Regions from separate parts of the Homo sapiens genome. Here region 1 is linked to region 2. Evidence: fine-mapped expression QTL. A gene starts in region 2. The other region holds a variant in brackets. All regions are shown on one strand. Distances are between the middles of the regions. Region 1 overlaps TTC8 (tetratricopeptide repeat domain 8). Region 2 holds the start of PTPN21 (protein tyrosine phosphatase non-receptor type 21).

The links. PIP is the estimated chance that this variant, and not a neighbour inherited with it, causes the effect.
Region 1: its variant is the best candidate, but not a certain one, in a credible set for the expression of PTPN21 in tibial artery (GTEx, PIP 0.55).

Annotation. Positions count from the first base shown.
Region 1 is chr14:88,848,854-88,851,353 of GRCh38, forward strand. The region is part of intron 7 of TTC8 (tetratricopeptide repeat domain 8); the gene reads left to right. Among named protein-coding and RNA genes, the nearest start is that of TTC8, 25 kb to the left of the region's middle. The variant A/G (reference allele first, on the strand shown) is at 1,465.
Region 2 is chr14:88,553,571-88,556,601 of GRCh38, forward strand. It overlaps PTPN21 (protein tyrosine phosphatase non-receptor type 21), which reads right to left and starts at 1,437. Exons shown (of 19, transcript NM_007039.4): 1 at 1,081-1,437. LOC124903405 (proline-rich protein 2-like) reads right to left here. Exons shown (of 2, transcript XM_047432047.1): 2 at 1,087-1,490. The coding sequence ends at 1,126. RefSeq lists a silencer at 1,395-1,444.

The sequences.
Region 1 (2,500 bases), 300 kb after region 2:
TACTAACGGAGATTAAGTCTAACTTTACCTTTGTTTTAAAATTTTTCAACAATAATGTTATAGTAAAATGAATTATAAATTAGGGGCAATAATATATTAAAATGCTGCCAATTTGTACTCTGCTTGTTATTTTCATCTGCTTACCCCCAATATACATACATTTTTTGTAGAACATAAAATGGAGCAATTTGTTTTGTTCTTATTTAGTGAGAAACACAAATTGTTCCTTTGTTTTCCATTTTATTTACTAATTCATATATTGATACATGCGTTGATTAGTTTATTCTTTAAATAATAATGATTGGGTTGTATATATTGGTACTTTGATGGGTGCTAGGGGTGCTGAGTTGGACAGATGTCTTGTTCTGTTTCTCACTCTGGTACAGTCTTGCCACATTATAGTGATGTTGTGGATCAGATTGTTCCATTAAAATGTCATTCTTGCTTTTACCAGAAATGTTCTTTTCTGAATGGAAGAAGGATTTAGATAATAAGTATAAAGCATGTATTTTTATATCTTACATATATTTTGTAACTTTAGCTGGAAAAAGAAAACAGGAATTCTGTTTTTTAACATGTTAAGAAATCAGAGGTGTTTTCATATTTAGATACCTTGGGTGGCCTCCAAATTTCTCTTTAAATAAAGTATTTAACACAAATACAGAGAATATTATAGACAAATATAAGAAATACCTTGAAATGGTGTTTAAATATTAAGAAAGTATAAAATTGATTGTCCATGGAAAACGATTTTTCTGTCTTTGAGCTTTTAGTGCTTTTCTCATGTTGTGGGGGTGGGCAGTATCAACGAAACTCAGGGGACACGTGGGCTGGTGATTCTGTGTTTATCTACAGACTAATAGGAAGAATACTGTAGAGACAGAGAACGCCATGCAGTGGTATTTAAATGTTAGGAAAAAGTAAAGTTATATATGGAAAACTATTTCTGCCTTTGAGTATTTAATAACTCCCTTTCCCCACCTTTCCCTTTTTGGACAATATTGTTGGTATCGACAAAACTAAAGTGGCATGTGGGTTGGTGATTCTGCAATCTTTGTTTCCACATGCTCTTTAATTTCATCATCCTGAAGTTGTTACAACTATAACAACAGTGAAAGGATGACTTTTTTTAAACTTAGATCTGCCAAAATTCCTCCTACTTTTGGACTTTTATAAACTTACTGCTTTAAAAAAATGGCATTCTGAGCTTTTATTAATATCTAGATATTGGTTTTACTAAATCATCCAAAAATCATTAAAGTCTTATTTATTTTAAAAATTTGGGAATGATTAAAGAAATATAGATCTGTCACTACTTAAAAATTTTAAGGTTAATAGCTTTTAATTATGAATCTTATTACTATGACAATTTTGTTTGGTTTTTAAGGTGTTGTCAACAGACGTCAGAAACAAAGATTATAATTAATTCAGTCAACAGATAGTTCTTGAGTACCTCTTCTGTGC[A/G]CAGCAATATTCCAGAACAACAGCACAGATGTAAAAGAGGATTATCTGTCCTCAGGGAGCTTGCCAGCCACTTAAAATTGTCCCAGATGGGCCAGGAATGGTGGCTCACACCTGTAATCCCAGCACTTTGGGAGGCTGAGGCAGGCGGATCAACTTGAGGTCAAGAGTTTGAGACTAGCCTGGCTAACATGGGGTGAAACCGTGTCTCCACTAAAAACATAAAACATTAGCTGGGCAGGGTGGCACATACCTGTAATCCCAGCTACTCAGGAGGCTGAGGCATGAAGATTGCTTGAGCCTGGGAGGTGGAGGAGTCGAGATTGTGCCACTGCACTCCATCCAGCCTGGGCAACAGAGCAAGACTGTATCAAAAAAGAAAGGAAAGAAATTGTCACAAATGTTTTTCTTTAGTGCCAGTGAGGACAGAAAAACCAAATTCTGTCAAAATATTTAAAGAGGTTTATTCTGAGTCAATATGCGTGACCTCGGTCTGGGGATACACAGTCTCAAAAGGTCCTGAGAAAGTGTGCCCAAGGCAACTGGGTTACAGTTTGGCTTTGTACATTTCAGGAAAGTATGGGAATTGCAGGTAAAATCATAAATCAGTACATGGAAGGTATACAGTGATTGGGCCTGAAAATTCTGTACATCTCGAAGCCATGGCTTACAAGTCATTGGTGGGTTTTAGGGATTCTTTAGTTGGCAATTGGTTGAAAGGTAATCTTTGTCTAAAGACTTGAAGTCAGTACATAAGGATGTTTAAGATCAGGGGGTGTCTGCCATCTCTCATGTGATGCTACACTAGAGTCAGATTGGAAAATAGGCTGCATTATACCAGCTTAGTTTAAAAAAACTGTTTAATGAGATTTTATGGTTTGTGGGGTCTGCTTAGAAAGGATTTGGGGCAAGAGAAAAAAAGGTCAGAGTTCAGTCCTTAGCAGCCTGAGTCTTCATCATTATAATTTCTTTTTGCCATTTTTATTCTGTATCAATAATTTATATTAATATCCTTAATTGGATTAGCACAAAGATATGG
Region 2 (3,031 bases):
GTAAACATAATTTATAAATAGCTATTAAAGGAAAACTAGGATATAATTTTTTCTCTACAAAATCTTTCCGTTTTGTGGTAAGTAAACAGATACATACTAGATTCTGCTTCAGTACAAGTTTACAAAAGGCAGTCTGAACTATTTGTGAATTCATTTTAATTTTCCCTCTCTACAACCCTTTCCAAAAGTTCCTCAAATACACTTTACCTCTCAATCTTACAGCGTTTCCCCTTTCCTATTAAGGTCCTTACCACATGTAATTTTGCCAAAGTTGCTTTAAAATAAAATAAGCACTAAAAGGAGAGAGTATGTGACATTTTTAGAGTAATATCTATAGCTATAGCATTAAACCCATGTTTCTCACGGAGAAAACATCTGTGCGTAGATGCTCCAGAATAAAATGCCCTAGAAACGAAACGGACTATATTCAGAGTAAAATTACTGTCGTGTCCCAAACTTAAAAAAATAAATAAACTGTCAGCAACTATTAGGCATACAGCAGTTGTCACTTGGAGCACACGAATGTTCTGAATGTGTTTGTGAGCATACGCTATTAGTATAAGGCTTTCTCAGCAAAAAAGAAAATAGGACGAGCATGCCAAGAGCGGCCAATCTAATCAGGATTTGCAGAAATCACAAGTCGGAATTTGCAGATCCAAGAATTCTTGTTTCCAGAGTAAATACTCTACTCCAAAAACAAACCCAGGCGTTACCAAACAGTCCTTCCCTGCGCCCCTTCTCGCCAAAGTTATCTGGCGAATTTCACGTTTATATATTCTGAGAGGCACAAATATGCCTAACACATTTAAAACCCTGATCCAGAATTAACCCGCAACAATCGGCCAGGGCGTTCGGAATAGAAGTTCAAGACTCCTTTTAGAAATTACTCAAGTATATGAGAGCGAACCTGAAAAACAAGACTTTTCTCTTTGTTACGCTCCCGCTACGGGTCTGGCCGCCGCGCCCCATTCTCCGGGATTCCGGGGCCGCGGGCGCGCTCCGGGGTCCGGGCGAGTGGACACACCCCACCGCTCGGGCCAGCCGCCCGCCCCTCCCGCCGGCCGGGGACCGCGCCCTCACCTGCTCCCGCTCCCGCTCCCGCATCCTCGGGGCCGCGCGCCCCGCTCAGCGACCCGCCTCCCGGGGCCCCGCCGCGCGGCCGCCGCAGCCGCACCCGCACGCCAGCCCGGGCCGCGGCGCGCTCATGGGGCTCGCACGCCTCACTTCCTGTCTCCAAAAACCCGGCTCGCAGACCATTCCCCTGGGCAGAGTCCGGCGGTGGCGACGGCGAGGGGCGAGGCCTGGAGGTGGGACCGGCCGGCGAGGAGCGCCGCACAAAGAAGCCCCGTGGGGGCGGGGGGTGGCAGGAGGACGGACAGACCGTCGGACCGACGCGGGACGCGCGGCCGGAGCAGCGGGGCGGCCGGGCCCAGGCGTCCCTCCCCCTGAGCCGGGCGGGCGGATCCGGGGAGGCGGCGGCGGCCCGTGACCTCAGAGAGTTGGAATGCGGGCAGCCGCGCGGGGGAGGCGCGGACAGCTGCGCCCGGCCGCCGGGGAGGGGGCGCGCCGCTGCTTTTTTTAATCGTATGACCACTTATTTTAAGAGTTTCCAAATAAAGCAAGGCTTTTAATAAAATGAGTGGAGGGGGTATTATTTAGGTTCCAGATAAAGGGTTTTATTCCTGTGTTATTAGGTAGGCTGTAAAATGCTGTTATTGATGGTTATTCGTTTACTCTGGTATATTTCTGAACACTATTGGAATACATTTCTTCTTTTCCTGCTTGCTCCTAAGGTTATGCCCCATATAACTAGACACTTCCAGTACTGGGTGGGAAAGCCCCCCCACCAAAAATGGTTCATATGCCTCAAATAACCTGTCAGTCCCCAAAAGGGAGCTGTCTGCTTATGCAATATAGAGCAGAACTGTTAAGGATGGAGACTTGACAAAGTTGTCAAATCCCAGCTCCAACATTTACTAGCTGGATGACCTTGTGCAAGTTTCTTAACTTCTCTTTACCTGTTTCCTCTCCTATAAAAGAGGGATATTAATATCTTTGCACAGCAGGGGTGGGGGAAATAAATACTAAGCAATATCCAATAACTTGTGTAAAGTATATATGAAGTGTTTCGTTTAAGGTTTATTATACAGTATTCTTGTACTGCATTATTACTGTATTGCAGCACTTAAGCTGAGGAATAAAACTGTGTGACCCTACCACTATTACAATAGTGTAAGATCTTTTCTTGGCATGTGGAACACAGAACCTTTTAATTTATGTAAATTTTAATTTCAGTGATTTTGTTTTAATGCTGTTGTTTCTGGAAAGCTTTTTAAAGTATTGTTTCATGTAAATCTCATTTTCTTAAACAATTAACAAAAACTTTTGAATACTTAACTCTGCATGAGACGTGGTCCCTGCACAACACGGACTTTTGGTTTAGTGGGTGATAAACGCACCTGCACACCACACACGCAGTACAAGGCCAAAGTGGGGAGCATTGTCATAGAGGTATGAGTGCTATCCAAGAGCAAAGCCCAGCAAGGTGCATCTTGGGTCGTTTAGCTAAAGGCAAATAAGATTACCTGTGTTTCTAAGGGAAAAAAAATAGATCAATTCTGTTTGTAATTGATATTTCAACTGAACTCTATGAGGGGGTCAATTTGTGTGTGAGCAAAGAAAAGAGATCTAAAAAGAAGTCACTTTGCTGGCTTCCCAAGGTAGAAAAACTGGAATCATGTGTGACTTCTCCCATTATCATCTCCAGCCTGTCATCAAGACCTGGTATTTCCTCCTTTGAAATGTCTCATGAATTCTTTGTTTCCTTTCTGTTCCCCCTGGAACATTCTAAATCCAAACCCTCATCATTTTACATCCGGATTATTGCAACAAGGGTGGTCTCCTGGCATCTGGTTTCTCAGTTCTCTCTTATTTCCTTGCTAATACCAGGCTTCCTTCTCTTATCACTCTTAATGGACTCCCAAGGTTAAGTTCTTCTGCCTGACCTATAGGGACTTTCCAAACGGGCCTC